Linked DNA regions of Homo sapiens: region 2 is linked to region 1. The links come from fine-mapping of genetic effects on gene expression. A gene starts in region 1. The other region holds a variant in brackets. All regions are shown on one strand. Distances are between the middles of the regions.

Region 1 (16,040 bases):
TTATTACTATTATTGGTAACAGAGTAATAATCAGTCTCTTTCTAAACTTGTAAATCAGTATAATTTTGGCCACTGCAGTGATGTCTACATCTAGTCAAAACTGGTGTTAAGTGGCAAATGGTTCCCCATAGCCATTGTGTGGGGTGTTTTCTCTCAAGGGCACCACATGTTCACTAGGACTCTGTGATGCTCCCCTGGGGTTCCTCACCTTAGTTGTAGGAATAAACCAACTACAGTAGTTTATTAATTATTATAAAGTTGTGAAACAAACATAAGGAATCCCATTCTTGTCCAGTCTAATTCCAGTTTGCTGTTGGGGGTTTGCATTTATTGTTAGCATTTACTCAGCATTTAGTGAAGTGTTTTCTGTCATAATTGAGTTCCTGCTTATTTTACTACTGATGTTTTGTTTTAGTCCTTTCAATACCTGTCTTTATTTTCTTCCTGCCCCAATTGTAATTGTATCTCAATTACAGTTCTGTCTTCAGAACTGAAATTGATTACTTCCTTGGGTGGTTCTCTGAGAAATAGGTCTTAAAAATGTCTCTTAAAAAAGCAAGAACTGTATTGAGTCCGGTGGAAAAGAGAGATGGTTTGATAAAATAAGTAAATCCCTATAATTTTGGCAACAGAGAGGAAAGAAAAAAGGATAGAAGACAAAAGAGGAAGGAAGAAAAGGAGGTAGAGAGGGAGGAAGAAAACAAAGAGAAAGAAAAAAAAGAACCCCATACACTAAATGTACAGTTTCCATTTGTCCACCAGAGGGGGTATGTTAACTGGTGGGAATAGAGGCCAGGCTAAAAGATTTTCATAAACTTTTTACAGGTGTCATTGTTTTTAAAAATGGAGCATTCTAATGTTATAATTTATTTTTAAATTATAGCTATGAAAATTATTATTTTATGAAGGTTTCTTCACTTTACAACACATCATAGCAGGCTCACTTAGTACTTATAAAAGTATAAAAATTGTATTTTATTTTTATACAGTAGTATTTGTCAGGATTTACTCACTAGTATATGAAAATATATCTTATTTATTTTTATTTTTTATTTTTTATTTTTTTGAGACAGGGTGTCACTCTGTCGCTCACTGCAACCTCCGCCTCCTGGGTTCAAGCGCTTCTCCTGCCTCAGCCTGCCTAGTAGCTGGGACTTCCGGCGCCCACCACCATGCCCGGCTAATTTTTGTATTTATAGTAGAGACGGGGTTTCACCATGTTGGCCAGGCTTATATTTTCTTTAGAATAGCATACTTATAGCCAGGTGCAGTGGGTCATGCCTGTAATCCCAACATCTGGGGAGGCCTAGGTGGGCAGATCGCTTGAGCCCAGGACTTTGAGACCAGCCTGGGTAACATGGCAAAACCTCATCTCTACCAAAAAATACAAAAATTACCCAGGCATGGTGGTGCATGCCTGTAGTCCCAGCTACTTGGGAGGCTGAGGTAAGAGGATCACTTGAGCCCAGGAGGTTAAGGCTGCAGTGAGCTGTGATTGCACCACTGCAAATCTAAAGTGAGATCCTGTCTCAAAAATAAATAATAAATAAATAATAAAGGAATGGAGTACTTATTTAGGAAATTTAAATTACCATACTTGTTTAATGAGCTGATTGTGTAAGTTATTCTCAGAAAGCCCTAGTTGGGAAACATGTTTTAGAAAAAATAGGATTTCAATTTGAAAAAACTTTTCAAGTCATTAGAGGTAGATGAATGTTTTCATGGCATTTTTTTTGGCTGAGCCTGTAAAATTAATTAGATTATAATAATTATTACTACTTTCAATAATCATATAGCCAGAAGGTATATTCCTCTATCTCCAAGTAGATATGCACTTAAATGATCCAAGGAATTTAACTACTTACACTTTTCTGTAAAATCTCCAAAGAAGGTATTACACTCTTACTTCCACAGGAAAAAAAAGAAAAGAAGCAAATAAAATAGGTATGGTAAGGAAGTACTTCTGGCTTCCTGGAACTTCCTTATATTGAGACTGAATTCTTGGCTGGGCGCGGTGGATCACGCCTGTAATCCCAGCACTTTGGGAGGCCAAGGTGGGTTGATCACAAGGTCAGGAGTTCGAGACCAACCTGGCCAATATGGTGAAGCCCTATCTCTACTAAAAATACAAAAATTAGCCGGGCGTGGTGGTGGGTGCCTATAGTCCCAGCTTCTCAAGGAGAATTGCTTGAACCCAGGAGGCAGAGGTTGCAGTGAGCTGAGATCGCACCACTGCACTCCAGCCTGGAGACTCCGTTTCAAAAAAAAAGAAAAAGAGACTGAATTTGTGTTGAAATTTAAGCTCAGGCTGGGCATGGTGGCTCACACCTAAAATCTCAGTACTTTGGGAGGCTGAGGTGGGAGGACTGCTTGAGGCCAGGAGTTCAAGACCAGCCTGGGCAAAATAGCAAGACCCGTCTCTACTTAAAAATAAAATAAAATAAAATAATTTTATGTGCCTATAGTCCCAGCTACTCAGGAGGTAGAGGGAGGAGAATTGCTTGAGCCCAGGAGTTTGAGCCTGCAGTGAGTTATGTTGGCACCATTGCACTCTACCCTGGGTAACTCTGTCTCCAAAAAAGAAAGAAAGAAATTTAAGTTCATATCTCTTGGGAAAGTAAGGATTTAACCTGGAGTGGGTCAATTTTAGCTTATTTAAACAACTGGAACCAGATATTTTTTGCTTCCTAATTCGGAATACAAAAATAATGCAGCCAAAAGAAGCATCATTATTGATCCCTGAAAAATTTACTCCAGTTTAAAAATCCTTATTAGAAGACCAGTATGCCAGTAAAACATAAAGTTATATATATATATATATATATATAGGAGCAGCTATCATATACGAGGAACATAATATTGAAATGATGCATGAGGACTGTAAATAGGATTAGGCTTCTAGCTGAGTATTCTTACCTATTTGATTTAATATCAATTTTTCTTTTATCCTTTAGGGAGAGTTCTATTTGGGAGCTTGTGGGCAATAGTAATTATCAGCAAGAGGCTGAATTGGAATAAGAGGAGGTCCCACTGTGATATGTTACAAAGTAAATCTCATGAATAATTTTTTTTTTTTTTTTTGAGAAAATCTTGCTCTGTCACCCAGGCTGGAGTACAGTGGCATAATCTCGGCTCACTGCAACCTCTGCCTCCCAGGCTTAAGCGATTTTCCTGCCTCAGCCTCCTGAGTAGTTGGGATTACAGGCACCTGCCACTGTGCCTGGCTAATTTTTGTATTTTTAATAGAGATGGGGTTTCACCATGTTAGGGTGGTCTCGAACTCCTGACCTTAAGTGATCTGCCCGCCTTGGCCTTCCAAAATGCTGGGATTACAAGCGTGAGCCATCGCGTCTGGCCAAGAATTTTTAATTGCAATAAATGATGAGACATGACAAGTTCTATGGTGGCCATAAATAAATGCATGTAGCAAGGAAAATGAGGTTACATAATGTATACATTATTATACCTTGATTTTCCTTATGTACATTGTTATTGATAGTACACAGATTTGACATGAGGTTTAATTAGTATTTATAATGTATTTAAGAATATCCTACTAAAGCATATGGTGTTTAGACACAGTATTATTAAACATAATATTTTTTACATTTATATGTCACTTTTCATTTGAGGCTTTCAATTCAATAATTAATTGTTTCCTTAATGTATGATTTCCACTTCATTTCAGGGGAAATTGAGGAACAGGCAAATTTTCACATGACAGAATATAATAAAGTTTCCCTTTACAATACCCCAATCATTTTGCAACATTTTTTAAATGAAAAATTTTAAACATACAGAAACGTTTAAAGAATCTAACATTTGCATATGTACTCTTTCATTATGGGTAACACATTTAATTGTATTTTGTTCAGGGCTAGAGCACTGGAGGTTATACTTATTAAATCAATCGGACTGGCCGGATGCGGTGGCTCATGCCTGTAATACCAACACTTTGGGAGACTGAGGTGGGTGGAACACTTGAGCCCAGGAGCTCAAGACTAGCCTGAGCAACATGGCAAAACCCTGTCTCTACAAAAAATACAAAAGTTAGCCAGGCATAGTGACACAGGCCTGTAGTCCCAGCTACTTGGGGGGCTGAGGTGGGAGGATCGCTTCAGCCTGGGAGGTTGAGGCTACAGTGATCCACGACCATGCCACTGCCCTCCAGCCTGGGTGACAGAGCGAGACCCTGTCTCAAACAAAACAAAACAAAACAAAACAATCGGACAGATACATGTTTTATAACCCAGTCTTGGTGAATATAAAAATGTTCTATTTGCTACCTTAGGAATTTAGTATGATTTAGTATGCTTGATAGTATCTTTCTCTAGCTTTGAAAAAAAAAATCATGGGACAGGTACAGTGGCTCAGGGCTGTAATACCAACACTTTGGGAGGCTGAGGCAGGAGGATCGCTTGTGTCTAAGAGTTCCAGACCAGCCTGGGCAACATGGTGAGACCTTGTCTCTACAAAAAAATAAAAAAATAGTGGGTGTGGTGGTGGGCACCTGTAGTCCTAGCTACTGGGGAGACTGAGGTGGGAGGATCGCTTGAGCCCAGGAGGTTGAGTCTGCAGTGAGCCGTGATTGCGCCATTGCACTCAGCCTGGGTGACAGAGTGAGACTCTGTCTCAAAAGAAAAGAAATAAAAATCATGGAAGACATCTATTCTGTCTTGTAAAAATTTAAGGTATATGAAAAGAGTAGAGGAGGAGGAGGAGGGAGAAGGAAGAGAAATTATTTATTGGGATCCAATATGTGCCAAAGATAGTATTAGGCATCCTTGCATGTATTATTTCATTTGATCCACATGACTACCCTGTGAGATGTTATTCCCATTTTACACATAAGAAAACTGGCTAAGAGAAGTCAAGTAATTTGTCTGCGGCTGTGAATTCAATTTAAATTCACAGCTTAAACTCTTTTCACTACATCTGAATGCATCATTTTCAAGATCTTTTCTGGGCCTGGAGTAAGTTGACAGTATTTATGTAAAACATGTAATACTGTATCTGTATGTATGCTCCTCTTCCCCACGCTCATTCACATTTACCGTGATTAATACACATGTTAATAAAACCCTAGACTTAGAACTAGGATATAGAATCCAGTCGTTTAGGTACTTAATGTTTAGTTCTCTCCTCCAGAAAACAGGAATAATTACCGCCTTTTTTCCACTCCAAAGAATTGATGTGATAATTAGGGAGATAAGATTAGTTACTAGTCATAACAAGAATAAACTACAACTCCCAAAATGCCCAGAGGAAGAGGCTGACGCCAGTCCAGGAGACAGTTCCAGCTTTAGGGCAAAGGTGACCCCACTGGGTCCCGTGGCGAAAGAGAGAGCCGCCGGTCCTCGCCTTTTTTCTGATGCATCCAGGGATTTGTAGTTCCCTTACGGCCACCAAGTGCACTTAGGGCAGGCCTCTTACTACGAGTCCCGTGATGACCCGAGGCCGGGCAGCGCCTGCGTATTGAAGCCGAGGGAGCGTGCGGGCGGTACTACTGGCGGGAGGAGTAAAGATGGCGGCGCGAGGGTCTCCGCCCTCTGCTCCGGGCTGAAGCGCTCTGAGAGAGGCGGCAGCGGCAACTCGAGCCCCAACAGTAATTTAGTGTTGGTAGTTTTGGCAGCAGCTGCCGAGGCCGGAGCAATGGCGGAACTGGAGCACCTAGGAGGGAAGCGGGCAGAGTCGGCGCGAATGCGGCGGGCAGAGCAGCTTCGGCGCTGGCGGGGCTCGCTGACAGAGCAGGAGCCTGCGGAGCGACGAGGCGCGGGGCGGCAGCCGCTGACCAGGCGCGGGAGCCCCAGGGTCCGCTTCGAGGACGGTGCTGTCTTTCTGGCCGCCTGCTCTAGCGGGGACACCGACGAGGTGAGAAAGCTTCTGGCAAGAGGTGCTGATATCAACACGGTCAACGTGGACGGCTTGACAGCCCTGCACCAGGTAACTCCTTTCTTGGTCTTAGAGGCGTCCAGTCTCCTACAGATGAGCCTTTGACCCTGCGAGCCACCCCATGGGGAGTATCAGTGTTGCCGCCGACTCCTTCTGCATGGACACTGCCCTTTTGGGCTAATCGGTTTCATTCTTGGCCAGCTTCCTCCACTAATCAAGTCTTTTTCTGACCCCAGGGTCTTAGGAATAGCGTCACCCCGCTGCTTGGTCAGTGTTTGTATTTCCCTCCACCTACTTGTGTTGTCATGGTTACTGGTGATTTTTGTCCCTGGTCTTATCCCTGTAGATTAGTTATCTTCACTTATGTCTGGTTGGCGTGCCTGCACACCGCGTCACTCATAGGCACAGTGTCATTTGTTTGATGCCCTTTCAGAAAATTCAGTTGTTGTGTGTCCCCGTTATAGAATATCTTATATCACTTAAAGAGTAAAGCCCTTTACTGGGTAAAGACAAGCAGGTCTGAAACCACACCTCTTGTTTTGTTGATTTGTAGTACTTCAAAACAGTTTGTGTTGCCTCTAGGCTACAGCTCCTAGAACACGCTGGACCTCGTTGTTTTAGGTATCTTAACTTCCTTCTCAGCAGTGCTACCTCCCTGAGAGCTTCCTATGGAGAACTAAGTTACTGAATTACCTCTGTTTGATACTTATGGAATAGCTTTTCTATTTTTCTATTTTTTTTTCTAAAGTGCTCTATAGAAATCCCATGCCCCATGTATAGCTATACTATATGGATTGTGGATAATCTGTGCTTGGTAACGACACCTTTACTTCTGTCACCTAATGCAGCAATATTCTCTGTCTACTGACTGCCATGACTAACTACCCCTCTCTCCTCAAATGGAACTTCATCAGTTATTTTGGTGAGCTGAGAGCCGGACACCCACTCTTAATCTTTTGTATTTTTCTTCTTCTGCCGTCTGTGCAAAGTGAATGTATTGGCATGAGAATCTACTTCTAAATAATAACTCAACTTTATATCAGACCACTTCCCTAAATATATTTAGCCAATAGCTTAAAAAGTTACTTCTCACTATGTTTGCAACCCTTCTATTTCAGGTAGAAGAAACTCTTTCACCCTATTTTGTACCCATTTTTTTTTCCTGCTGATAATATTTCCCCACCTGAGGTAGTAACCAATATTTGTAGAGTGCTTTGCTGTTTGATTTCATATGTCTTACCCCATGTGAGTTTCAGCAGTGATCCTTTGAAGTAGGTGTGGCAGGTAGTGTTGTTATTCTCATTTTACAGATGAGGAAACTGAAGCTCAGGAAAATTATTTGTGCAAAGTTAGAAAGTAAAGAAGTGGCCCATAGGCATGGATTTTTCAGACTTATGTCACAGAGATCTCTATCTCACTTAATAAGGAGCTGAATGTAAAATGAGATAAAAGCTAAGAGAACCACATTAAATTCTAAACTTTAAATTTCTGAACTCTTTGGGAAGGTGAATTCTTGTTTTTCTTTTTCTTTTTCTTTTTTTTTTTTTGATTCAGAGTCTCGCTCTGTTGCCCAGGCTGGAGTGCAATGGCGAGATCTTGGCTCACTGCAACCTCTGCCTCTTGGTTTCAAGCGATTCTCCTGCCTCAGCCTCCCGAGTAGCTGGGATTACAGGCGCCTGCCACCACGCCTAGATAATATTTGTATTTTTAGTAGAGATGGGCTTTCACCATGATGACCAGGCTGGTCTCAAACTCCTGACCTCAGGAGATCCACCCTCCTTGGCCTCCCAAACTGCTGGGATTATAGGCATGAGCCGCTGTGCCTGGCCTAGTAATCTATTGAAATAAGAGAAGAAGGGGATGACAGCTATGGATTTTTTTTTAACATCTATAAATGCAATATAAGCATTCCTTTCCATTTATAGGGCTGACAAGGAGTTGAACTGAACAAGTATACTCGATTCTAGACAAATTCAGCTAAAAATTAAGCTGCTTAAAGATTTGAGGTCTGTTGAGAAACTGTATCTTTGAATCAAGACAACGGGCCTTTATTGGCTTCAGAACATTACAAGTCAGTTTCCGAAGAGTTACAATGTGTGTCTCCATGACTTGGAGAAGTTTTTGTTGTTGTTGTTGTTGTTGTTGTTGTTTAAAAAAAAAAAAAACAGTGTCTCACTGTATCTCCCAGGCTGGAGTACAGTGGTGCAGTCTCAGCTCACTGCATGCAACCTCCGTCTCCCAAGTTCAAGCTATTCTCATGCATCAGCCTCCCAAGTAGCTGGAACTATAGGTGCCCACCACCATGCCCAGCTAATTTTTGTATTTTTAGTAGGGATGGGGTTTCGCCATGTTGGCCAGGCTGGTCTCAAACTCTTGGCCTCAAATGATCTGCCTGCCTCGGCCTCCCAAAGTGCTGGGATTACAGGCATGAGCCACCGCGCATGGCCGACCTGGAGAACTCCTAAGGTACATAAAAGACTATTTTCAAATGGGAGACTGGAGCTGTTGGTAGCTGAACCACCTACTTTACAATGGATTCACCTTCTGTGAAATGGAGAGTGAGTGGTACAATTATCTGAATTATTTATTTAAAATGTCCATTTGTTATACAAGCACGATATAAATTATCTGGATAATTGCTTCTTTTCTCTCTTTTGGCCATGGCCACTTGACCAACTGTGGATTATTGTCTTGGCATGTTAGAAGCCCCCAGATAATACTGGGGGACAATTTTTCTCCTCCTACAACGTCACAGTAGATGATTTGCACTGCAGCTTGTGGTGCCTTGATGCTTCTTTTGGACTTAGAGACCTTCTTTCTTGGCAGCCTTTGCTGAGACCACGAGGTGCTTGAGTCAAAGATAACAAGCTCCAGGGGGCCTATTAATAATACTTGAGTTAGACTGGGATAAGAAGTATCTCAAAGGTTAGACCAACTCTGATGAAAGCCTTGGAAACTGATGCAGACTAAATTTCAGTGACTAAATTAAGATTTGGTGTGTATGCATGTGTTGTCCTAGAGTCCTTAACAAGGTATTAATCTGATTATAGAACCCTTGAAAGCACTTGTTTGCTCACAAAGGAATTTCTGTTTCATTTGCGTATACACATTGTAAGGCCAGGAATATTTGTTAATAATTCTATGTGGAATAGTACTTTAAATTTTTTCTTTTATTTATTTATTAAGTTTGACTGTTAGCACCTATCTTGATATCCTTAGCATTATAATCTTAGGTACTCTAGGCCTAGATACATGATATCTACCAAATTATTGCTGTGGGAAGAGGCAAGTGCCTACTTTCAGAAAAGAGATTTTTCTAGGATTTATTAAAATGAATGCTTACTTACTTCAGCATGTATTATGTTGACTCTTAAATCTGTGCTGAGTGTGGTGAGGGATGCTGGATTTCAGTCACCATAGGTCTTGTCTCTTAGCACGGTCTGATCAGTCTTCATCTGGAGGGCTACCAAGGAGATTAGAATAATTCCATACTTGACTCAGAAATTCACACTGGCGGCCGGGGGTGGTGGCTCACGCTTGTAATCCCACCACTTTGGGAGGCTGAGGCAGGTGGATCACGAGGTCAGGAGTTCGAGACCAGCCTGGTCAACATTGCAAAATCCCGTCTCTACTAAAAATACAAAAATTAGCCTGGTGTGGTGGTGCACACCTGTAGTCCCAGTTACTCGGGGAGGCTGAGGCAGGAGAATCGCTTGAACCCAGGAGGTGGAGGTTACAGTGAGCTGAGATCACACCACTGCACTCCAGCCTGGGTAAAAGAGTGAGACTCCGTTTCAAAAAAAAAAGAAAAAAGAAATTCAGACTGTCTTTGTAATGTGCAGGGTCCAAATTTGGACCCTCAAGGTCACACCAGACTGGAATTCAGTTTGTAGTTGAATAAGCCTTTGTCATTCTAGAGTTGCCTCAGTCTGACGCTGTAGACTTAGGGAGGCTAAAATCACGTATTTCTCAGGAAGAGAGATGGAGATAGGAACAAGTGAGGGGAGGAGGATAGGCTGAGCAATTTATATTCAGACAGAGACAGAAGATGAGTAAGATGAATGTGTGTTCAGTTCAATATAAAATAGTATATTTTGTGTGCTAACTCATATGGTAAAATAAAACTTGTGCTTTTAACCTTTTCTCTTTTATTCTACATTTATTACTCATTCCTCTCCTGGTTCCACCTGCGAAGTTACTTTTGCCTTACCCTGAATATTGATGAATTCTGCTTAGTGTCAGGACCCATGGCAACATAGGATTCAGAAAAATCCTGTTTGCTCCTTTATTATTGTGCATCTAGAATAGTCATCTATCCTGAGCCATTTTAGTAGCTTACCTCTTCAAATTGCTTAATATGTTGCATCAGACTATGTTGGACCTCAAAGCCATATTGGGAAATTCAGCTTTTTGTCTGTGTGGTTTTTTTTTTTGAAAGTATAAATAAAAATGACTTTCATTTGTTCCGCAGAATTTCTTCCCTATTCTTCTTCTTTGTGTGTGTGTGTGTGTGTGTGTGTGTGTGTGTGTGTGTGTGTGACAGGGTCTTGCCCTGTTACCCAGACTGGAGTGTGGTGGTGTGACCATGGATCACTGCAGCTGCAACCTCTCAGGCTCAAGTGATCCTCCCCACCTCAGCCTCCTTAGTAACTGGGACTACAGGCACACCCCATCATACCCAGCTAATTTTTAAAATTTTTTGTAGACAAGGGGGTCTCACTATGTTGCCAGGGCTGATCTTGAACTCCTGGGCTAAAACAATCCTCCCCCCTCGGCCTCCCAAAGTGCTCGGATTACAAGTAGGAGCCACTATGCCTGGCCTCTCCCCAATTCTTCAACTCCTGCTGAATAACTGTATATCACCATTTGGGCTTTTAGAATCTTCTACTCTGTGAGTATTTTGAAATAGGCAACCTGTCAATATATATGGATTAAGCACAATTCTGCCAAAGGTAAGGAGTTGGACCAGTCTTGTTGTTAACATAAAACTAAGTAGTTTATTTTTTTCTTTTAAAATATTTTAAAACTAAGATATACTTTATATACAATAAAATTCACTCTTTGTAGTGTAGCATCGTATGAGTTTTGACAAATGCGTACAGTTGTGGAACCACCACTGTAATCAAGATGTAGAACGTTACCCTCAAGATTTTTTGTGCTCCTTGGTAGACAGCTCCTCCCACCCTCAGCCCATGACAGTCATTCATCAGTTATTTTGTCCCAATAATCACAATAGATGGAGGCTGAGGCAGGAGGATCACTTGAGCTCAGGAGTTTGAGACCAGCGTGGGCAACATAGCAAAACCTTGTCTTTACAAAAAAATAAAATTAGCCAGGCATGTTGGTGCATGTCTGTAGTTGCAGCTACTTGGGAGGCTGAGGCGGGAGGATAGCTTGAGTCCAGGAACTGGAGTTGCAGTGAGCCATGATCGTGCCACTGCATTCCAGCCTGGATGACAGAGTGACACCCTGTGTCTATAAACAAACAAGAGCCACCATGCCTGGCCTAGAGTAAAGTTTTTGATATTTGAATAATATGCCATTAATTACATGTGTCCCATTCTTTTTTTTTTTTGAGACAGAGTCTCGCTCTGTCAGCCAGGCTGGAGTGCAGTGCACGATCTCGACTCACTGCAACCTCTGCGTCCCGGGCTCAAGCAATTCTCCTGCCGTAGCCTCCTGAGTAGCTGGGATTACAGGGGGGTGACACCACGCCTGGCTAATTGTTTTTTTTGTTGTTGTTTTTTTTTTTGAGACGGAGTCTTGCTCCGTCGCCCAGGCTGGAGTGCAGTGGTGTGATCTCAGCTCACTGCAAGCTCTGCCTCCCGGGTTCACGCCATTCTCCTGCCTCAGCCTCCCGAGTAGCTGGGACCGCAGGTGCCTGCCACCATGCGCAGCTAATTTTTTTTGTATTTTTAGTAGAGACGGGGTTTTGGGCGGGTGGATCACGAGGTCAGGAGATCGAGACCATCCTAGCTAATTTTTGTATTTTTAGTAGAGACGGGGTTTCACCATGTTGGCCAGGCTGGTCTTGAACTCTTGACCTCAGGTAATCCACCCGCCTCAGCCTCCCAAAGTGCTGGGATTATAGGCGTGAGCCACCATGCCTGGCCGTGTTCCACTATATTTTTCTCTTTAGAGGTTTTCTTAGATTCTTAATTAACAACTAATATTGAATGTCTAAATGGTAGATTGTAAGTCTGTACTAGAGTATATATGTGGTATAATTTCTGCCCTCAAGGAACTAACAGTCAGGTTTGGAAACAGATAAATAAAAAAAAGATTCCTTTTAGAGTTCCAAATTCTATGATACCCTGGAAAGGATGTATTCCTAAGTGGAAGGACAAACGAAGGCAGTCCAGGATGGTAGAGCAGCATGGGCGAATAAATAGGAATGGGTGTGGTGTGTAGGCAGAGGATGCTAGGAAATCCTAATGGATGTGTTTGAAGGGTTAGAGATGAGAGAGAGTCAGGGTGACATCCTAGAGGGCTTTGAACATCAAACATCAGGCCAAGGTGGCTTGATGGACTCCTTAGTAGAGAATTTTTGTGGGTTTGAGCAGGGTCGTTACCCAACCAAAGCAGTATTTTAGGATTCTGAAGCAGCACTTGGATTTCTGAATGAATGGAGAGACAGAGTTGAGAGAACCAGCTGAGTGAATGGAGATGAGAAAAAAGTGTAGTACAATTCTAGCTTGTGAGTCTGAAAGAATTGTGTTATTCAGGTAGAAATAGTATTCAGTCAACGATTAGACTGAGGTACTCTGAAGACGTACAAATAGAAATCTCCTATAGGTGTTTAGCATGGTGGCCCATATCTGTAATCCCAGCACTTTGGGAGGCCAAGGCGGGAGGATTGCTGGAGACCAGGAGTTTGAGACCAGCCTGAGCAATGTGGTGAGACCCTATCTCTCCAACCCCCTCCCCACCCAAAAAAAAATTAGCCAGGTATGGTGGTGCAAACATGTGGTCCCAGTTACATAGGAGGCTGAGGTGGAAGGATCACTTGAGCCCAGGAGGTTGAAGCTGCAGTGAGCTGTGTTCACACCACTGCACTCCAGCCTGGGTGACAGAGCAGAGCAAGACTGTGTCTCAAATAAATAAGTAAGTAAGTAAGTAAATATCCTGTAGGTATCTATGTGACTCAAGGCTAGTCACTTTCCTATCTATGCTCCAGTTTTCTCATATTTGAGACAAGAGACTTGATTTTAGCATAAAGGTGAGAGTTGAAGTAATGAGTGTGAAAGAGGAAAGGGAGAAAACATACAGAGAAGAGCAGAAAACACAAGCAGCTGGTAGGCAGAGAATGCAGAAATTCAAGTTAGAGCTGTTGGAAGATGTGGTAGGCTGACTAATGGTGCCCCAAAAATGTCTAAGTCCTAATCCCCAGAACATGTAAATATGTTACCTTACAGGGTAAAAGAGACTTTGGGGATATGATTAATTTAAGGATCTTGAGATAAGGAGATTAGCCTGGATTATCCAGGTGAGCCCAATATAATCACAAGCATCCATATAAGACAGGCAAGAGAGCAGAATCAGAATAGGAGATGTGATGAAGGAAGCAAGAGATTGCAGGGATTCCAGGAAGGTTCTGTGAGCCAAGGAATGCAGGTGGACCCTAGAAGCTGAAAAAGGCAAGGAAGTGGATTCTTCTCTCAGAGCCTCCACATAAGGAACCAGCCCTGCCAGCAATTTGACAACTCAGCCCAATGAGACTGATTTCAGACTTTTTTTTTTTTTTTTTGAGACTGAATTTTGCTCTTGACCCCTAGGCTGGAGTGCAGTGGCACAATCTTGGCTCACTACAACCTCCGCTGCCCGGGATCAAGCGATTCTCCTGCCTCAGCCTCCTTATTAGCTGGGATTACAGGCGCCCACCACCACAACCAGCTAATTTTTGTATTTTTAGTAGAGACGTGGTTTTGCCTTGTTGGCCAGGCTGGTCTCAAACTCCTGACTTCAGGTGATCCACCCGCCTTGGCCTCCCAAGGATTACAGGTGTGAGCCACTGGGGATTACAGTTGTGAGCCACTGCATCTGGCCATGATTCAGACTTCTGACCTCCAGAATGCTATGATAATAAATTTGTGTTGTTTTAAGCAACTAAGTTTATGGTAATTTGTTATAGCAGCAATAGGAAACTAATACAGAGAAGAACCGACAAACAGTGATATTGAGGTATTTCAAGGAATGGATGGTAAATAATGTAAAAGGAAATTGAGGAGAAGGCCTGTAAAAAGACTGTTGGATTTGGTCATTTAAACTTTGAAAGAGCACTTTCAGTAGAGATATTTTTGAAGACTTTTGTGGAGGTTATATGAAGTTTTTTTTTGCATTAAGGATAACTTGTCTTTCTGTTGACTTTTGGGAGAAAAAATATAGATTTTCCATCAATATAATTGTAATTTAAATGAGGGCCCAAAATATGTGGCAAGACACTTTAAAAGCTGAATTCTGGCTAGTTCAGGTGGTTTCATTATTCATCAGTTAAGAATATTTTAGGATATTAAACCTGATAATAGGGGCAAGAAAGTTATGTCCCTATTACTGATGGCTGCTTATCTAGTTTATTTTACTTCTCAGTCTAGTTTGGCCCATTTCCCACTCATTAGCACTTCCACTGGAAGGCAGCCTTGGGGGAACAGTGATAGGGAGGTTAGTACCAATAAACAGTTTTTTCTGCCATTCTCTTACATTTATTTCTTGAGTGTCTACTGTGTATCTGATTCTGTGCTGCTTGTTACTTTTACTTAGCAGTAGATACAATTTAGAAACTAACTTGAATTTTGGGATTGGTCTCCAGAATAGTTGGTTACTATTATAACTTATAATAGGAAATTGGCTACATAACCGATTTCTGTTCTAGCATTCTGGCTCTTGAGGAGTGTCAGGGGAGTACTATATTTATCAGTATTTGAGACTATTTTATGCTTATGGAGGAGAATTACATATATATCTTCTCTAAGATGGTGAAATATGGAGGTTTGGGATGTCTAATAAATCTTTAATGGTTCAACATAGTAATAATAAATCCAGATTAAGACCTTGGCCCAGAATGTCATATAGGACAAGGAATTGAAGCCTCATTTGGATTGCTAATTGAGTGCTTGCCCAATTTGTTGATGTTGTTTTTGTCTGTGAATATGTTGGGGTTTTTCCTGCTTTTGAAGTGTCATTTAAAAAAATTGTTTCTTCTGATCTTAGATTGTAACCAGTTTGAGTAAAATTTGGGGGCTTAAAGTTTTATCAGGCATGCAGAGTTTATGTTTGTTTCATGAGGCAATTCAATTGAAAAACTGAAGCTTTGCCCAGGCGCGGTGGCTCACGCCTGTAATCCCAGCACTTTGGGAGGCCAAGGCAGGCAGATCACGAGGTCAGGAGATTGAGACCATCCTGGCTAACACGGTGAAACCCTGTCTCTACTAAATATACAAAAAATTAGCCGGGCGTGGTCGCACGCGCCTGTTGTCCCAGCTACTCGGGAGACTGAGGCAGGAGAATCACTTGAACCCGGGAGGTGGAGGTTGCAGTGAGCCAAGGTGGCACCACTGCACTCCAGCCTGGGTGACAGAGCGAGACTCCGTCTCAAAAAAAAAAAAAAAAACTGAAACTTGAGTTTTCAGTATTGGAAATTGACTTGCATGTGGTTTTTAATGAAATATTCTACTTCATTATAGTTATGGAATAGGTTTATACAAAAATTTAGAGATGATTTTATATTTAGTATACTTAAATGTTATGACACAGTGATAATCTGTTAGAATATTAATCTAATGCAAATTTGGGGAATATTTTATGGTGCCATGCTCTAAATATTCATGATATATCTGGCATGATATATGTATCTGGTTTTTCTGTATTAATTATTGGTCTAGTGACTCTCTTTTAAGCATTTTATTATGGAATATTTCAAAATAGAAGATACAAAAGTAGAGAGAATGGTATAATGAATTCTCAAAAGTGATCAACTTATGGCCAATCTTGTTTCATTTATAGATCCTCATCTCCAGTATACTGGATTATTTTATAGCCAATCCTAGATATCACATAATTTTTTTTTTTCTTTTGAGATGGAATTTCACTCTTGTTGCCCAGGCTGGAGTGCAGTGGTGCGATCTTGGCCCACTGCAACCTCCACCTCCCAG
Region 2 (16,040 bases), 280 kb after region 1:
TCTTTGAGTTCCTTGTGTACCGAGGCCTGATGAGCCTTCTTGGTCAGTGCATGCACACCTCCACTTTGGAGCGAGGTTGTCATTCCGCACACGTAGAAGCAGAGTCTGTTCTTGACTGGCCCTGGGGAAGCTAACAACTCCCAGGTTCCTGAGAGTTGGAACGTCCTTCTAGTGTCTAACTTCAATCTCTCCTGCTGCAGCAACACTCATTTTCCTTCTCTTGATCTCGCTGAGATCAGCAATTCCAGGCCACCTGATGGGCGCCTCAGAATCCAATGGCTGAGGATTGAGCCCTTCCTGCACCAATCTTGGGCTGGCCTGTTAGCCTCCCTGCGCTTGTGCAGCTGTGTGTGGGGGTTAAGCATCCCTGCCCTGCCTGCCTTAAGGACAGCTTCCATGATCAAAGGTGAAGTTTCCTGAGTGAGGCTCTGTAAACCTGCAGCACCTCACACCTGCCTCGGATTATTTATTTCTCTCTGAACCTAGACCCCAGGCATGGATACCCTTAAATCACAGGCAAATATTAATAAAACCCAGCCTGTGAGGGCTGAGGGACTCTTACAGACAACGCAGTCCACAGCCTCTTTTCGAAAACAAAGAAACTGAGGCCCCAAAGGGAGGTGGCTTACCTCCATCACACAAACAACACCGCTAAATGGTGGCAGCCCTGCCTGAGTTGTCAACTCCTGGATTCCAGGCCTTTGTCGCCCCTCAGGCCACCCCACCAAGCCCTGGCTCCATTTGATCCTTGGCTAACTCTTGTAGGGTGCAGGGATAGTAGCAGTGGTGAGGGGGCAGAGGGATGCCCCCGCCAGGCAAGCCCCTCAGCACACCCTCCGCTCTGCCACCCCAGCCAGGATCACAACTTGAAACAGGACAGAGAAGCCCGCCATCCCCATGGGAGAGGAGCTGGAGTCCAGGCTCCCTGGAGAGGGAGTTAATACTGCAGCACGGCGCACTCTAGCCAAGACGGAGAAGCTGCTGAGTCACAGTCCAGCCGCCTGGCCAGCCCTGAGCTGCCTGCTGGGGCCCCCAGCTGCTCCCAGCCCAGGGGGCTGCCTCTGGCCCCCAGACAGGCTGCCTTCCCACCTCCTTCTCCAGAGACTCAGAATCTTGGGCCTCCAGGGTTCCCCACTCCCCAGCACCCCACAACATCTCCCAAACCCACAGGCAGCTGTCCTGGGGCGGAGGAGAGGGTCTTCCATTGGTTGGGTGTCAAGATGCTTGGGAGCAGGCCGGGAAGGGTGGGCGACCCGGAATGAGTGATTGAGTGGGGACAGATGGAGGCTTGGGGACCAGCGGGCCCTGGGCTGCCTGGTGTAGGATACGGAAAGTGTGTAGGGGGGGTGCACCCGTGGGCCCCAGGAGGTCTGTTGTGCGCATGCTCTGAGTGTGAGGGAGGACGGGTAGGACTGTGGGGGTCTGCCCTGGTCGTGCTCCCAAGAGAGGCACTGCTTTCTGCAGAGTGCGTGGGCAACTGCCAGCTGGGGGAGCGCTCACCAGGGGAAAGGGGAGCTCTCTGTGGCTTAGCAGTGATTAACCCACACAATCAATGGATCCTCCAGCCACAGTGTGAGCAGCTCTGCCTCATGTGAGGCACACAGCACCTTCCAGCACAGTCCCGATATCTTTCATGCCAGATGCACATCTTCAATTTCAGCTACAAACTGTTACAAATTGATGCATTTTCTTTCTGACTAAATGTTACAAGGTTTGAACACACTAGCTCTGCCGATCACCGCCCCTCTAAGGGATGGGTTTAGAGGTTTGGCACGAAAGCAAAAGCCTTTTAATAGGAGTGCGTGAGTGTGGTGGTGTGTGTGTGATGTGAGTGTGCATATGTGGCGTGTGCATGTATGTGGTGGGTAGGGGTATATGTGGTGGTATGTATGTGTAGGATGTGTGTGCTGTATGTGTAGTGTGTGTGATGTGGGCGCTAGGGTGTGGGGGACAGTGGGGTGTGTATATATGGTGTGTGTGTGATGTAGGGGGTGGTGTGGGTTAGGGGTGGAGGCTCTAGTGGGGTGTCAGGGGGTATGTGGGTAGTGGGTAGTGGCATATGTGTGGTGTGTACGTATGTGTGGTATGGGGGTATAGTGAGTTTGTGTGGGATGTGTGTGTAATACGTGTATGTGTTGTGGTCTGTTGTGTGTAGTGAGGTGTGTGTGGTGTATAGTAAGGTGTGTATGGTGTGTGTCTGTGTGGTGTGTAGTAGAGTGTGGATGTGTGTGGTGTGTGTGGTGTTTAGTAGTGTGTGTGGTGTGTGATGTGTGTGGTATCTGTGTGGTGTGTGTGGTGTCATAGAGTGTGTGTATGGCATGTAGCACAGTGTCTGGTGTGTAGTAGTGTGTGTGTGGTGTTTAGTAGTGTGTGTTGCGTGTAGTAGGGTGTGTGTGTGGTATGTAGTAGGGTGTGTGTGGCATGTAGTAGGGTGTGTGGTGTGTGTGTGGTGTGTGGTGTGTGTGTGGTGTGTATGGCATGTAGCATGGTGTGTGTGTGTGGTGTCTGGTCTGTAGTAGGGTGTGTGTGGTGTGTAGTAGGGTGTGTGGTGTGTGTGTGATGTGTGCCTGTGTGGTATGTGGCGTGTAGTAGGGTGTGTGGTGTGTGTCTGTGTGGTGTGTTTGTGTAGTGTGTGTGGTGTCTGTGTGTGGCATGTGTGGTGTGTGTAGTGTGGTGTGTGTCTTTGTGGTGTGGCATGTAGTAGGTTGTGTGTGTGGTGTGTGTGGTGTCTAGTAGGGTGTGTGGTGTGTAGTAGGGTGTGTGTGTGGTTTGTGTGTGGTATGTGTGTGGTGTGTGTGGTATGTGTGTCGTGTGTGTGGCGTGTAATAGGGTGTGTGGTGTGTCTGTGTGGTGTGTGTGTCGTGTGTGTGGCATGTAGTAGGGTGTGTGTGTGATGTTTGTGGTGTGTGCTGTGTCTGTGTGGTGTGTGTGTGGTGTGTGTGGCATGTAGTAGGGTGTGTGTGTGATGTTTGTGGTGTGTGCTGTGTCTGTGTGGTGTGTGTGTGGTGTGTGTGGCATGTAGTAGGGTGTGTGTGTGATGTTTGTGGTGTGTGGTGTGTGTGTGTAGTGTGTGTGGTGTGTAGTAGGGTGTGTGTGTGGCGTGGACTGGGAGTGTAAGGGGAGGGGGTGTTGCCAGTGTGCGGGGAGGGGGAAGGGGGCAGGGGCAGGAGCCCGGGCTGGGTGGCAGGTGCCCCCGTTCAAGCTGCAGGAGAGTAGCTGGAGAGACCGCGGCCTCCTCCCCAGCCCACTTCTTCCCTGCGGCCCGTTGAGGAGACCTAGCGGTGCCCCCTGCTGTCCGTCCAGGAGGCTGCCGCCTGCCTCCAGCCCCATCTCCACCCAAGCCAGGCCCACGCCCTCCGCACACAGCCGCACCCCCGCCAGGCTCCCTCCCAGGCCCCCAGTCAACGCTCACACCCTGGAAAGGAGGAGGTGGGCAACCGGTGGGAGGCCGGAGGCAGAAGGAGGCTCCATTAACTCAGTAATGGAGCAGAACATCAGCACTGTGGCATCTGCTAGCCGGCAGCACCGGGGAGGGGGTCCTGTCTCCATCTCTCAGGCCCAGCTGAAATGGGTGACAGCAGCCAGTGCAAGAACATAGCAGAGAATGCCAGAAAGGCTGTGTATGTGTATGTGTGTGCACGTGAACGCCATGTGTATGAACACCATGTATGAATGTATAAACATGCATGAACCAGCACTGTGAACACATATGCAAACATTGTGTGCAGGTGCATTACACTGCCATATGTAGAAATGTGAGAAGCTCCAGGGAAGGGAACGCTGGGGGTCTCGGGCCACACCACTTGTCCAGGAAGCTGGGGTGATAGCTACAGGCCCTGTACGTGGGTAATGGGAGGGGGTGGACTACGATGCGGGTCACCTTACAGCCTCGGGGTTGGAAGAGACCACAGGGTCACCAGCCCCCACCCTCCCTCTGCAGTGGCATCTCTTGCCAGACCCTCTGTCTCCAAAGGTGGCAAGAGGGCTGGGACCTGAAAGAGGCATCAAGAGACCTGGTTTCTCTTCACTTCTTTCCATCCTTTGGAAAGTGGCTTTGCATCTCCCAAGACAGCCTCTCAGCTTTTTTTTTTTTTTTTTTTTTTTTTTTTGAGACAGGGTCTCACTCTGTCACCCAGGCTGGAGAGCAGTGGCACAATCACAGCTCACTGCAGCCTCGACCCCCACGAGTAGCTGGGACTACAGGCGTACCACCATGCCCGGCTCTTTTTTGTAGAGAAGGGGTCTCACTATGTTGCCCAGGATGGTCTCAAACTCCTGGGCTCAAGCAATTCACCTGCCTCAGCCTCCCAAAGTCCTGAGATTACAGGCCTGAGCCACCGCATGCAGCCTAGATAGCCTCTCAGCTTTTAGAACCCAGCCTTCCGAGATGCTTGGAGAGTTCTACCTCTGAAGGCAAGCGGCAGAAAGGGTGGTGGGGTCATGAGAGAACGTGGGCTTTAGAACAGCCAGGGCTGCTTTCCAACCTGACACTTAGCAGCTCTGCAGCCCTGGGAGATGAGTTCATTTCCCTGGGATCATTTCTTAGCTACAAACCGAGGATCAGGTGCCTGTCTCACAGGGATGTTATGAGGATTGAAGAGGCCACATGTGCTGGCACAAAGTGGACCCTAAATACTCATTTCCTTTCCTCAGTTCTCCTCTCAGCGGGGCTAGGCTGAGTCCATGCTGACCACGAACTCAAGGACAGACCTTGTGTTACCCACAACGAGGGGTGCAGTGCTCGCCAAGTCAGGGACTCTGAGCCAGTCCAGGCTCTGTCCAGGAGGGCAAGGGTTGCTGCAGAGGTTGTGCGGCTGGGGAGCCTAAGGCCCAGAATTCTCTTCCCTGGCTCTGTGTGTTCCTCTTGCAGAGACTGCGTCACTTCTTCCTGGTGTCAAAGGTACTTGTATAAGCAGCTCAGCTCCCAGGGGACCACTAGGGCTGTGAGGTGGGAACGTGCCTTGTTTACGACTGCATTTCCTGCCAGCTCCCAGAGGAGCAGCCTGATTGCTGAGCCTGATAGCAGGAAATGGAGGAGGTGGGGGATCTCACCAGGAACTGCCCCCCAACTCTGGCAACCTCCGTCCCATCAAGCTCCCTGCTAAAGGAGAGAAGAGAAACCCCAAAGCCAAAAGAGGCACCCTGTCTAGGTCAGACCGTGACACCCAGGGCCTGAGTGGTCATGGGTGGGGTGTGGACGGGCAGGCGCACTGCCTTGCAGTGCTCCACTATAGGTAGGCAGGCCCATGGCTCCCCATGGGGAAAGGAGATCCAGTGCAGCTCAGGTTCTCTGGAGAGTAATGCGCAAAGGAAGGGCATGAAGACCACTTCCCTGGTTAATGAGGGTTTGACCAGGAGTTGTCTGCCTTACCCAAACTTGAAAATAACCCCTAGCATGTTTAATTGCTTAAAAATCCACTCTTTCATCTGATCTTCACTTTCGTTTCCTCCAAATCCTATGTCAGGCTCCATGCTAAGTGCTGGGAATACAAGATGAATAAAACCCAACCCCATCCTGAAGCAGCTCACAGGGAGACGACAGAGCTCAGGCCTTTGGGAGGTGCAGCAGATGTGGTTCTGCCCCTTGACAGAGGAGACAACTAAGGCTCTGAGATCAGCTTGCCCAGGGCCTCCCAGTGCACTTGAACCCTGACTTCCCAGCACCCAGCCCAGGGCTCTTTCCTTCCCAACAAAGAGCCCCAGGGAGCTCCTCAAGCACACTGGGAAGGTGGGTCTAACGGGAAGATCACAAAGGCACCGGGCTCAGAGGTGGGTGCCGGGGGCAGGGAGGGAGACCTCCACTGTGCCCACTCCGTGCCAGCGGCATATTTCATTTCATCCGGGCCTTGTGAGGTGGGGACTGTGATTCCCATTTTGTAATTGAGGAAACTGGGCCTCAGGGGGAGCGAAACAGGTCACTCGCTCAAGCACCCTTCCCCAGAGGATGGAAAGAGCTGTACTCCCAGGTAGCAGAGCAGCTCGCTTTGGGCCACACCAGGACCTGGGAGAGGTCATGAGATGTCTGGGGAGCCCAGCCTGCTCTCAGTGGGAGCTGGGAGCCAGCATCCCAGGCAGGGAGCCAGCCAAAGAAGGTGCAGTCTGGTCCTCCCGTTTCCAAGAGCGCCTCCATCCTTCCAGGTGCTGGCCAGGCCCCAGGGACAGAGACGTGCCCATCACTCTTCAGACAGAGATGCCCATTATCACCAACACCTATGACAGCTCATGGTCTCCAGAAACTAAAGTGGAGCATGCAAGTCCCGGGGGCACAATTAGGTGCTCCAAAGAAGCCAGCTCTCTCCTGCCTGACCGGGGGCCGGGACAGACATGGGAGATAGGGGCCAGGAGGGATGAACCATGGCCTCAAAACACCCATGGGCTGGAGGAGGGGAGCAGTGAGGGGGAGAATTCCAAATTGGAAAGCCTCAACTTGGAATTCTATGTGGATCCAAACCTAGAAGACAGCTCCGCTGAGGAAGAGGAGCCAAGTGAAACACCAGGTGCTGCCAAGTGGGGTGAATGAGCACCTGGGCTCTGGGCAGACTGACCTGGACTGGAGTCTCGGCTCTTTTAGCCATGGGAACTTGAACAGGTTGCTTAACCTCTCTGGGCCTCAGCACTCCGTCTGCAAAATGGGAATGATAATGGAAGCTGCTGCGCAGGGCTGCGAGGCTTAGGAGCACTGTATGTAAAGCATGGTATTATGGCCATGGCCGGTTCCTGAGCCAGGCTGGGCACGGGCCTGTCAGAAGCACACAGGGATGGCTCCAGTGGAGAGGTGGGGCAGCCTCTCTGCTAACTCCCTATTAAGGACCAGGTTAAGCCAATACCCTTTTTTTAAATTATTATTTTCTGAGATAATTCAGGCCTCTCTTAATAAATGGTCCTCCTTCTACCCATGCCTTTAGCTCCAGCCCAGATGGCCTTCTTGATGCCCACCTCTGGGCCAAGGCCTCTCTTGAGCCATTGCACTATCCCTGGCTTCTTTCCTGCCCCTGTGTCCAGATACTGCCAAGGCTTTCCCCCTCCTCCAGCCCACCTTCCCCAATACTCAGGCCTCTCAGCAGCCATGGCTTCTCCAACAGTGGCTGCTAAGTCTCTATTTTGGTTGCTCAAGCTTTCAAGTTCTCATTTGTGGGTATCAAGTTCTCATTTGTGGGTATCTGACCACATCCTCCTCTCAGAAGTCAGCAGA[G/A]TCTAGCTGTTCTTCCTCTAGCTGCCACTCCCATCCTATAGATGACAACACTGGGATGTGAAGAGGTGAGGTTGCCCAGACTCCCCAAGGGTGTCCCAGCCAAAACCTATCCCTAGTGTGGTGGCTCACACCTGTAATCCCGGCACTTTGGGAGGTTGAGGCCAGCCTGGGCAGCACAGTGAAACCCCATCTCTACAAAAAATTTTAAAATTAGCCAGGCATGGTAGTGCATGCCTGTCGTCCCAGCTACTCAGGAGGCTGAGGTGGGAGAATCACTGGAGCCCAGGAGTTTGACATTAGGTAAGACCTAGCCATGCCAGCGGACCAGCCAAGCGGCCATACCCAGCAGGCAGCTGGTGGGGGGGGGGGGGTGGTACGGCAGGTGTGTTGCTCAGAAGTGACTCTGGAAGTCACTAGCACAAAAGGATAATCCACTGGGGAGAGTGTGGGCATAAGAAGAAATCCAGAGATGGGCTTCTAGAAATATCAGCATTTGGAGGATTTGTAGAGAAAGAAGAAAGCCAGGGAGATTGAGAAATGACCAGGAATGGGAGGAAAGCTCCGAAGAACAGAAAATGACTCCATGGCAATAGAGCAGTTACACTGGAGGGGCAGGCAGGGGCTGGGAGGGGACAGGGATCCTTCTGGGGAATTTCTTTGGTGATTACACTGGTGCATATATCCATAAGTTGTGCACTTTGCTGAATCTAAGTTATAACTACATCAAAAAGAAAAACGAATGTGCAGAGCAGAAAGAGCTGGGGGCTGACCCCTGGCTCCCACACACTCTGGCTTGACCAGGTGCTGGAGGACACATGGGGAGAGGGAACACAGACCCCAATAGAGCGCCGTGCATCCCATCGCCAACCGGCTTTCCCATGATGCACAGGCGCTTCTGCTGAGAACCACAGGGCAAAGGCACCTAGAACCAGGGAGCCACTGAGGAAAGGCTTCCTGGAAGAGCAGCAGGGAGCCAAGGTTTAGGAGGAGATGGGGTGGGCTTGGAAGAGGCTGGCCACTTTCCAGGCAAGAGACGTCCACCTGGGTGGGTGTCTGACAAACCACAGACCATGATGGGACCCCTCACAGCCACCACCCTGGAAAGTGCAGTGATGACAGCTGACTTGGGAAGGTGATGACACAGCCGAACACACCCCTGGCTCCAGAGACGCCATCATCTGGGACCCTCTCCTCAGAGCCTGACCTAGGGCAGGAGAGCCTCCCTGGTCCAGGACACCAGAGGCCTCAAGGTTTTCCCTCACAGGAGCGGAAGCATCTTTCCACACCCCGGGCCCCAGGAAACATTTGAGAATGGGCCGTTGCCCTGCCTAGCAGTACACAGGGCTCTGGCCTCCCTGCTCTGGGCCAGAGGAGAGGTGGAATGGAAGTGGGCAGAGGACTGTCCCCTTCATATGACCACTGGTGACAAACACTGTGTCCTGCAGAACACAGCCCAGGATGAAGCACCTCCACCCACACACACGGCATTCGGCAGCTGCAGGGCCCAGCCCTGCACCATTTCTGAAGGTCCACACATAGCACATATCACAGCCGAGGAAACTGACAGCCAGAGAGAGGAAGGGACTTGTCCAAAGTGGCAGAGTAAGGAGCCTGCCTCCCAATCCAGTGCTCTTCCAAGCTGGCAAAATCCTGAGCCTCGGAGAGGCTTAATGAGCTGCCTGCCTACCAAAGCCAGCATGGGTGAGCATCTGTGGCTCTCTGGAACCGCAGGGAGTTCCAGTTCACCCTACAGATGACCCCTGCTTGGAGCTGTGACTATAAATGGAATACCTGGGGTGGCTCCTATCAGACCCTGACTCCCTGGAGCTGGCAACAGAGAACCGGCATGTAATGGTCCCCGTAAACACAGCTAGCCTGCATCAGGGTTTCTAATGTTCTGCTGCAGGTTCACTTTGCACTTGAGAAACAGGAACGACTTAAGTTTTTTTCTAGCAGCTTCTTGGCTCTTCCCAGCGGCCCCTCCCCCAAGCAAAGTCCCCTGAGAGGAAAAAAATCACACCACATCTTTGTGGATCAGCGGTGCCTCTGCCCCCACCCAAGACACCAGGCATGGTTCCTCATGAAGAGTGACTTGCGGCTCCTTCACAGCACCGAGGGCTGGAGCCAGAAGATGGATGAACCCACTGCGGGGGTCTCCTCTCTTCATGTGGGAGAATAGATTTAGGCTCAAAATGAAGGAGGGTTTTTGCACAGTCAGCACCACCCATTGATGAGTTCATGGTCCCAGGAGGTAATGAGGGCTCCATCATTGGGAGCATTCAAGCTGAGGTTAGCCCACTATTGGGAGGGGTGTTATAGACAGGACTCAGGTAAGGGGACACAGCGCTGACCTAGATGAAATTTGAGGTCTCCCTTCCAACCCTGAGAGCCTCTAAATCTCTGACATCTCCATCCCAGCCCTTGCTGCTGATTGGCCTCATTCGCCAGGCCCTGCTGGTTCGCCAGGCAGTTTGTCCTCAAGGAGAAGTAGCTGCCAATTATGTGAGGACCACAAGAGCTTCCTTTATGACACTGCCACTCTGCAGGAAGGGGCTGAGGTGGGGTAAGAGGGGAGAAACAAGACAGAAGGTGGCACCAGAGAAGGAGCCAGCTCCCCAGGGCCTGGAATCTGCAGTGTTGCCACCACTAGATAATTTGTGGGGCACATTGCTGTGGGGGTCTCAGGAAGCCAAGTCTGGGCCCAGAAGGGAAATAGCCCAGTTCTGGCCTCCTGACTGGGGTGGGGGACTGTCAAGGGAAAAATAAGCCCAACCTAGCTCTCTGAGGCTCATTAGAGAAAAAGGTAAATGTTGAAGACGTGTCATGGCAGGCAGCTCATTAAGCCCACGGAGCTTAAAAATAGTGAGACACGCAGATATTGGGGGATGGGGAGCTGGGGATGAGACTCCGGCTCATCACACTACAGGCAAGAACAGCAAACCTGGGAGAAACTGACTCTATAACCAGTGGAAGAAAGGCTGCGTAGCCATCGCCGGATCTCTAGGTAAGCTTGGCGCACAGGCCTGCTGGAAATGTCAGACCCTGTTCTGTCGATGAGAAGACTAAGCCCAGAGGAGGGTGTTCCCAGGCATTACCCAACAGGCTCGACTCTTCTCCAAGCAGGGGAAAAGAGAAGACACAGAGACACAGACCTGCCCCGGAGGAATCCAGAGCCCACCTGCCCAGAGAGGCTCCTCCTGATTTCCCTGGCTCTGGGCACCCCCTTAAAAGCCCTTTATGCCATCTTTCCTTTCAGTCAAATGATGCAGGATTTGGGACCAGACAGCCTTTGCTCAAATCCTTCCACTGTTACCTACCAGCTTGGTGGCCTTGGAGAAGTTATTTCCCTGTTCTGGATGTGCTTCCTCTTCTATAAACTAGAGACGCTACAAATTCCCACCACAGAGGGGTAAATGCACCATCCTGTATGTTATGTGTTTGGCACAGGACCTGGGATGCAGGAGGCACTCTGACCGGTGGCATCCAGGAAGTAAGGAATATGGACTAAAGGGAGGGCCAAGGAAAAGTTTACAGGATGTGGCTGTGCAGTTGGAAGATGCAGACGCGCCTCGCTTGGTGCTGCCAGGTTAGATTTGCAGAATGCAGTGAATGCTCTTGCTGACAAAGGATGGGGAAAAGTGAACTGGGGAATCATGACCTAGGGGAAGCCACTAGCTCAAATACTGATCCCTATTTAAGTCACCAAAATATGCTGGGCACCCACTGGGTGCCCAGCTCTTTCCCATAAGTGATCCCAAACCAGGAGCTAGGCCAAGCCTCCAAAGACGGCTGGGTAGTTCATTGGAATGAGGGCTGCAGTGACTCCAGAGGAGCAGGACTCAAGAGAAGGAGAGCCAGGGAAGACTGAGGGGATGTGTAGGTGAGGTGGCTTTTTTCTGGCTGAGAGAATAGAAGGTCTCCAGCCCACACCAAGGGCTCCATAATGGAAGGGAGGCCTAGGGTGGGTCCTCCCCTCTCCCCATCTTCATCCCACTCAGCCCCTACCTGGCCTTTAACACACTGGGTGGGAGAAGTGTTGCTGAGCACAGCAGTGACCTGAGGCCCTGGGCACCCATCCCAGCTTAGCTCCCTAGGGGGCTCCAGTTGCTGAGGAAGAACATAGAACTTATATAGGATGGGAGAGCTGGAAGGAAACTTAGGATCAATTGTTACAGCCTCTAACTGAATGGTGAGAGGCCAGTGAGAGAGCCAGAGCTAGAATCCAGGGCCCTTTCCATGATATTGCACCTCCCATCTCAGCCCTGTCTCTTATGAAATGCCATATTGAAGCTTTATGTATTGGGGAAATTTAACTGAGGCTCAAAGGGACACAAATTCCCTAAAGCCACATGGTGAGTCAGACAGCGAAATGCAAGGTTTCTGGTCCTTTCCCAGCATCCAACAAACATTTCTTGGGCACCTACTACAGTCAGGCTGGGAGCACTTTCAGACATTCTCTCACTTAAATCTCACATGTGGGAGCAAGGTGGTGGAAGAGCAAAGGGCCAGAGGCCAGGGTCCAAATCCTGGCTCTCTTAGCTGAGTCTCCTTGGACAAATCCCTTGATGTCCCTCAAATGATGCCTCCATTTCTTCACTTTATAATAAGGGGATTCATAATAGTACCTACCTTGTAGAGTATTGTGATAATTAAAGGAGACTATCCATATGAAATACTTAGAACAGAGCCTAGTAATATAAATATACCATTTAAAAATAAGTATACTGGCCGGGAGAGGTGGGTCACACCTGTAATTCCAGCACTTTGGGAGGCCGAGGCGGGTGGATCACCCGATGTCAGGAGTTCGAGACCAGCCTGACCAACATGGAGAAACCCCATCTGTACTAAAAATACAAAATTAGCTGGGCGTGGTGGCGCATGCCTGTAATCCCAGCTACTTGGGAGGCTGAGGCAGCAGAATTGCTTGAACCCGAGATTGTGCCATTGCACTCCAGCCTGGGCAACAAGAGTGAAACTCCATCTCAAAAAAAAAAAAAGTATACCATTTGACAATCCTAGGCATATACCCGAGAGAAATGAAAACACATATCCTTACGAAAACCCTTCCACAAATGTTGATAGCAGCATTATTCAGAGTAGCTGAAAAGTGGAATCAACCAAACATCCATCAACTGATGAATGGAGAAATAAAACGCAGTATATCTACACAATGGAATGTTATTTGGCAATAAAAAGAAATAAAGTATCGATACATGCTTCAATGTGGCTAAACCTTGAAAGCATTATGTGAGTGAAGGAAGCCAGTCACCAAAGACCATGTATTATATAATTCCATCTAAATCAAATATCCAGAAGGTGCAACTTCATAGAGACAGAAAGTAGATGATTAGTTGGCTAAGGCTGGGAGGAATGGAAGAATCGAGGGTGACTGTTAATATGTATGGAGTTCCTTTTCAGGGGTGAAAAAATGTTCTGAAATTAGATCGTGGTATGGTTGTGCAGTTCTGTGAATATATTAAAAACTATTGAATTGTGCGCTTAAATGGGTGAATTGTATCGTATGTGAATTATAGCTCAATAAAGCTGTTTTCAAAAAGTAAATATATATTTATAAACTTCTATAAATAAGATAGTAAATCATATCCATTCCAATTTAATGATAAGGCTCAGAGCGAGTCAGCAACTTGCCCAAAGTCCCATGGCTAGGAGGCCGCAGAACCTGATTTTGGACTTTGTGTTGTCGAACTCCTGAAGCTCCTAAGACCTGATCCAGCCCACACTCATGGAAAGCAGGTCTGCCCTTATGTATCTTGGGGAAAGCCTCCATTCCCTGTCCCAATGAGGCCACTCAGGAAGTTCTCCCCGCTCTCTAATCCAAACCCATAGAACTTACAAGGGATGATGTTGAGGGGGATTTGATGTCAGGAGCAGGGTCACGGGAGACAGGCACCAGAAGGGAAACCTACATTTCTAGCCAATGCTGGATATCTTCTTTAGGGAAGCCTGGGGAATGGGGCAGAAGAAACATAGTGGACTTCAAGACATGAGCTCACAGTTGATTTTGGGGGTGACCTTGGCCAAGAAACCTCATCTCTGGGGCTCTTGGTAAAATGATATTCAGGAAGAAGCTCTGAGGACAGCTCCAGAAGCAGACATTTCTAAGGCCATTTCTAAAGTGGCCCTCCCTCTCCTTACGTACAACTCACCCCAGATGACCAGGTGGGAAGTCTGTAGGACAGTGGGCATCACTTGGTTGCTTGCTTGGGTATACACAGCCTGGTCACCCCCATGGTTCTTGGCAGAAGATATTGGGGGCCAAACCATGAGGCCCTAACCTAACCATCAATGCAATACTATGAGCAGATCAGGTTGGCTCTCCCTCCCAGCCAGGAAGGAGGCAAGAGGAGGAAGCGACAAGGGCACTAACAACCAGGGTCCTTGTCTTACCTGGCAGGAAAGATGCTGAATGTGATATTGACTCAATGTGCTGCTTCTGATCAGCCCCCTGCCTGCCTCCCTGCACTGTGGATAGTCTGGCTGCAAGTGGTAGGGGGAAGGAGCTCCCAGTTTTGACAACCCAGGGAAGGCATCACCTCAGTCTGTCTGGGGCTCATGGCCAGGGTGTCCCAGCTTGAAGGAGAGGTTCTCCTGCCCCCTTCTCTGCTTGTACAACTACAGACTGCATTCAGAAACACTCCTTCTCTCTTGCTAAGGAGCATTAGGAGATACAAAACCACCATCCTTTTTCCAGGTGAAATAAGGAACAGAAAATGAGGAGGGCCAGATTCAGCCCAGAGCCACCCAGAGTCCAAGTGGCCTCACTGGGAGAGCAGTCCACTGGGTTTGGTGCCCTTGGTAGAAAGCCCAACATGCCAGGACCTCAGCCAGAAAGCCAGCATGTGCTCCAGAGCAGGGAGAGGGAGAGGCCAACCTGTGCATCCGCTAGGCTCACTGGCTATTTCAAATCATCGTCTGCCTCATTTGATCCCAGGACATCTTGGGAGAAGTGAGAAAGACAGGCATCCCTCTCCACATTTTTTAATGGGGACCACTGAGGTCCAAGAGATAGGGAAAAACCGCTTGCCTGGGGCCATGTGCAGTAACTTAATAGTGGGTTCACTGGATTCTAGGTTCTTCTCATCAAAGCCAATCATATCCCTGCCTCGCCCCACTCCCAGCTCTGCTGCTATGTTTCTTTATCTACAAAACGTCAGTTTTCAGAAACACCATAATAACACTCTTTATATTACTTTATAGCAAAATCTTTACAGCACCGTTGTGTCAGGCACTGCCTATTCTTAGAGCTATATGTAAATAGTCATACATTAAATCCTCATGCCAACCTGATGGCAAGCTATTTCATTTCCATTTTACAGATGAGGAAACTGAGGTAACAAGTGTTTAAGTAACTTAGCCAAAGTCCCACAGATAAAAAACTGGAGGAGCTGGCATTTGAATACAGGCAACCTAGCCCTAGCATCTGAGGTTTAACCACTGCACCACAGTGCCAAGCACATGCAAGTACAAGGCTCCTCATATCCCAAGTCTCACTAAAACATGGACTAGGGGCTGGGCATGGTGGTTCACGCCTGTAATCCCAGCACTTTTTGGAGGCTGAGGTAGGAGGATTGCTTGAGCCCCAGGAGTTCGAGCCCAGCCTGGGCAACATGGTGAAACCCTGCCTCTACCAAAACAACAACAACAACAAAGAAAAACCTCCCAAAACAAAAATTATCCAGGCATGGTGGTGCACACCTGTAGTCCCAGCTATGTGGGATGCTGAGGTGGGAGGATCACCTGAGCCTCGGGAAGTTGAGGCTGCAGTGAGCCGTGATCACACCACTGCACTCCAGCCTGGGCGACAGAGTGAGACCCTGTCTCAAAAAACCTGAAAACCAAAACCGAAAACCAAAACCAAAAACCATGGACTAGGGGCACACGAGTCGGCTCAGGACAAAGTACGCATGCAAGAAGTCCACATAAGTCCAGAAGCTGGGCTGTGCTCTCACCCAGGCGCCATGTGCTGGGGGTGGGGATGGGGGACAGGCTGCAATCTGTCTCTGAGCAGCCGGCTGCCCTCAAGTCCCAGCCCAGCCGAGCAGTGGGGAGCAGGTTGAAGGCAGGCTTGGAGCTGGCAGGCTCCGTCTGCCCCACTGTGAGCAGCAGCTTTGAGAGACTCTCCTGCCGGCTGCTCATAGGTGCTGCAGTATCTCTCCTGGCTGCAGGGCTGGCTGGGCTGAGGCCAGGCCAAGGGCCTTCCTTCCCCCTTTCACCCTCTGCCCCTCCCTCAGTGCCCGGGGCCAAACTAAGGCCTTTGGAAGCTACTCTGGCTTTCTGGTCTCCAAGGACTGCCGGCCCTGATGATCAATTTGGTGGCTGCGGGACCAGGTTTAGTCTTGGGTGGCAGCGCTGACCTCCAGGAATGTCACTGTGGCCCCTTCAGGGGCAGGTAACAAACCTAGCTCATTCCCAAGAGAATAAGGGAGTCCGGTGGATCAACTCCCAAGGTTTTCCACCTAGCAGATTTGCCAACAGCGGGCAATTCCCCGGTAGGAAGTCCTTCCTTGTACCTCACATGAGCCCTTCCTGCTGCAGTACAGCCACATTACCTTCTACTAGAAACCCTTCTGCTTCCAAATGCACCCTTTGTTAAATTGCTAAGATGCGATTCCATGAGTAACACAGCAATCACAAAAGCCACTGAAGCAGACGGCAGCTGCTACAGGGTTCAAGAATTCCATTCCAGCTGGGGAAAGGCTGTGGGCTTTGCCCCTCCTCCCCCCCAGCCCCTCCCCAGTCTCAGGACACAGAGAAAAAAGGAGCAGCATGTGGTGAAGAAAAATGGAAAGATAACAAAACAAAGGAAGAAAAAAAAATATTCACAGCC

What was found.
Region 2: its variant is fine-mapped to the expression of PPP1R12B in whole blood (TOPMed, PIP 0.98).

Annotation. Positions count from the first base shown.
Region 1 is chr1:202,343,200-202,359,239 of GRCh38, forward strand. It overlaps PPP1R12B (protein phosphatase 1 regulatory subunit 12B), which reads left to right and starts at 5,500. Exons shown (of 24, transcript NM_002481.4): 1 at 5,500-5,943. The coding sequence starts at 5,653. RefSeq lists enhancers at 5,247-5,787, 5,459-5,768, 15,687-16,040.
Region 2 is chr1:202,622,318-202,638,357 of GRCh38, forward strand. The region is part of intron 1 of SYT2 (synaptotagmin 2); the gene reads right to left. Among named protein-coding and RNA genes, the nearest start is that of SYT2, 80 kb to the right of the region's middle. RefSeq lists enhancers at 397-1,021, 15,298-15,863 and a silencer at 3,132-3,211. The variant G/A (reference allele first, on the strand shown) is at 7,193.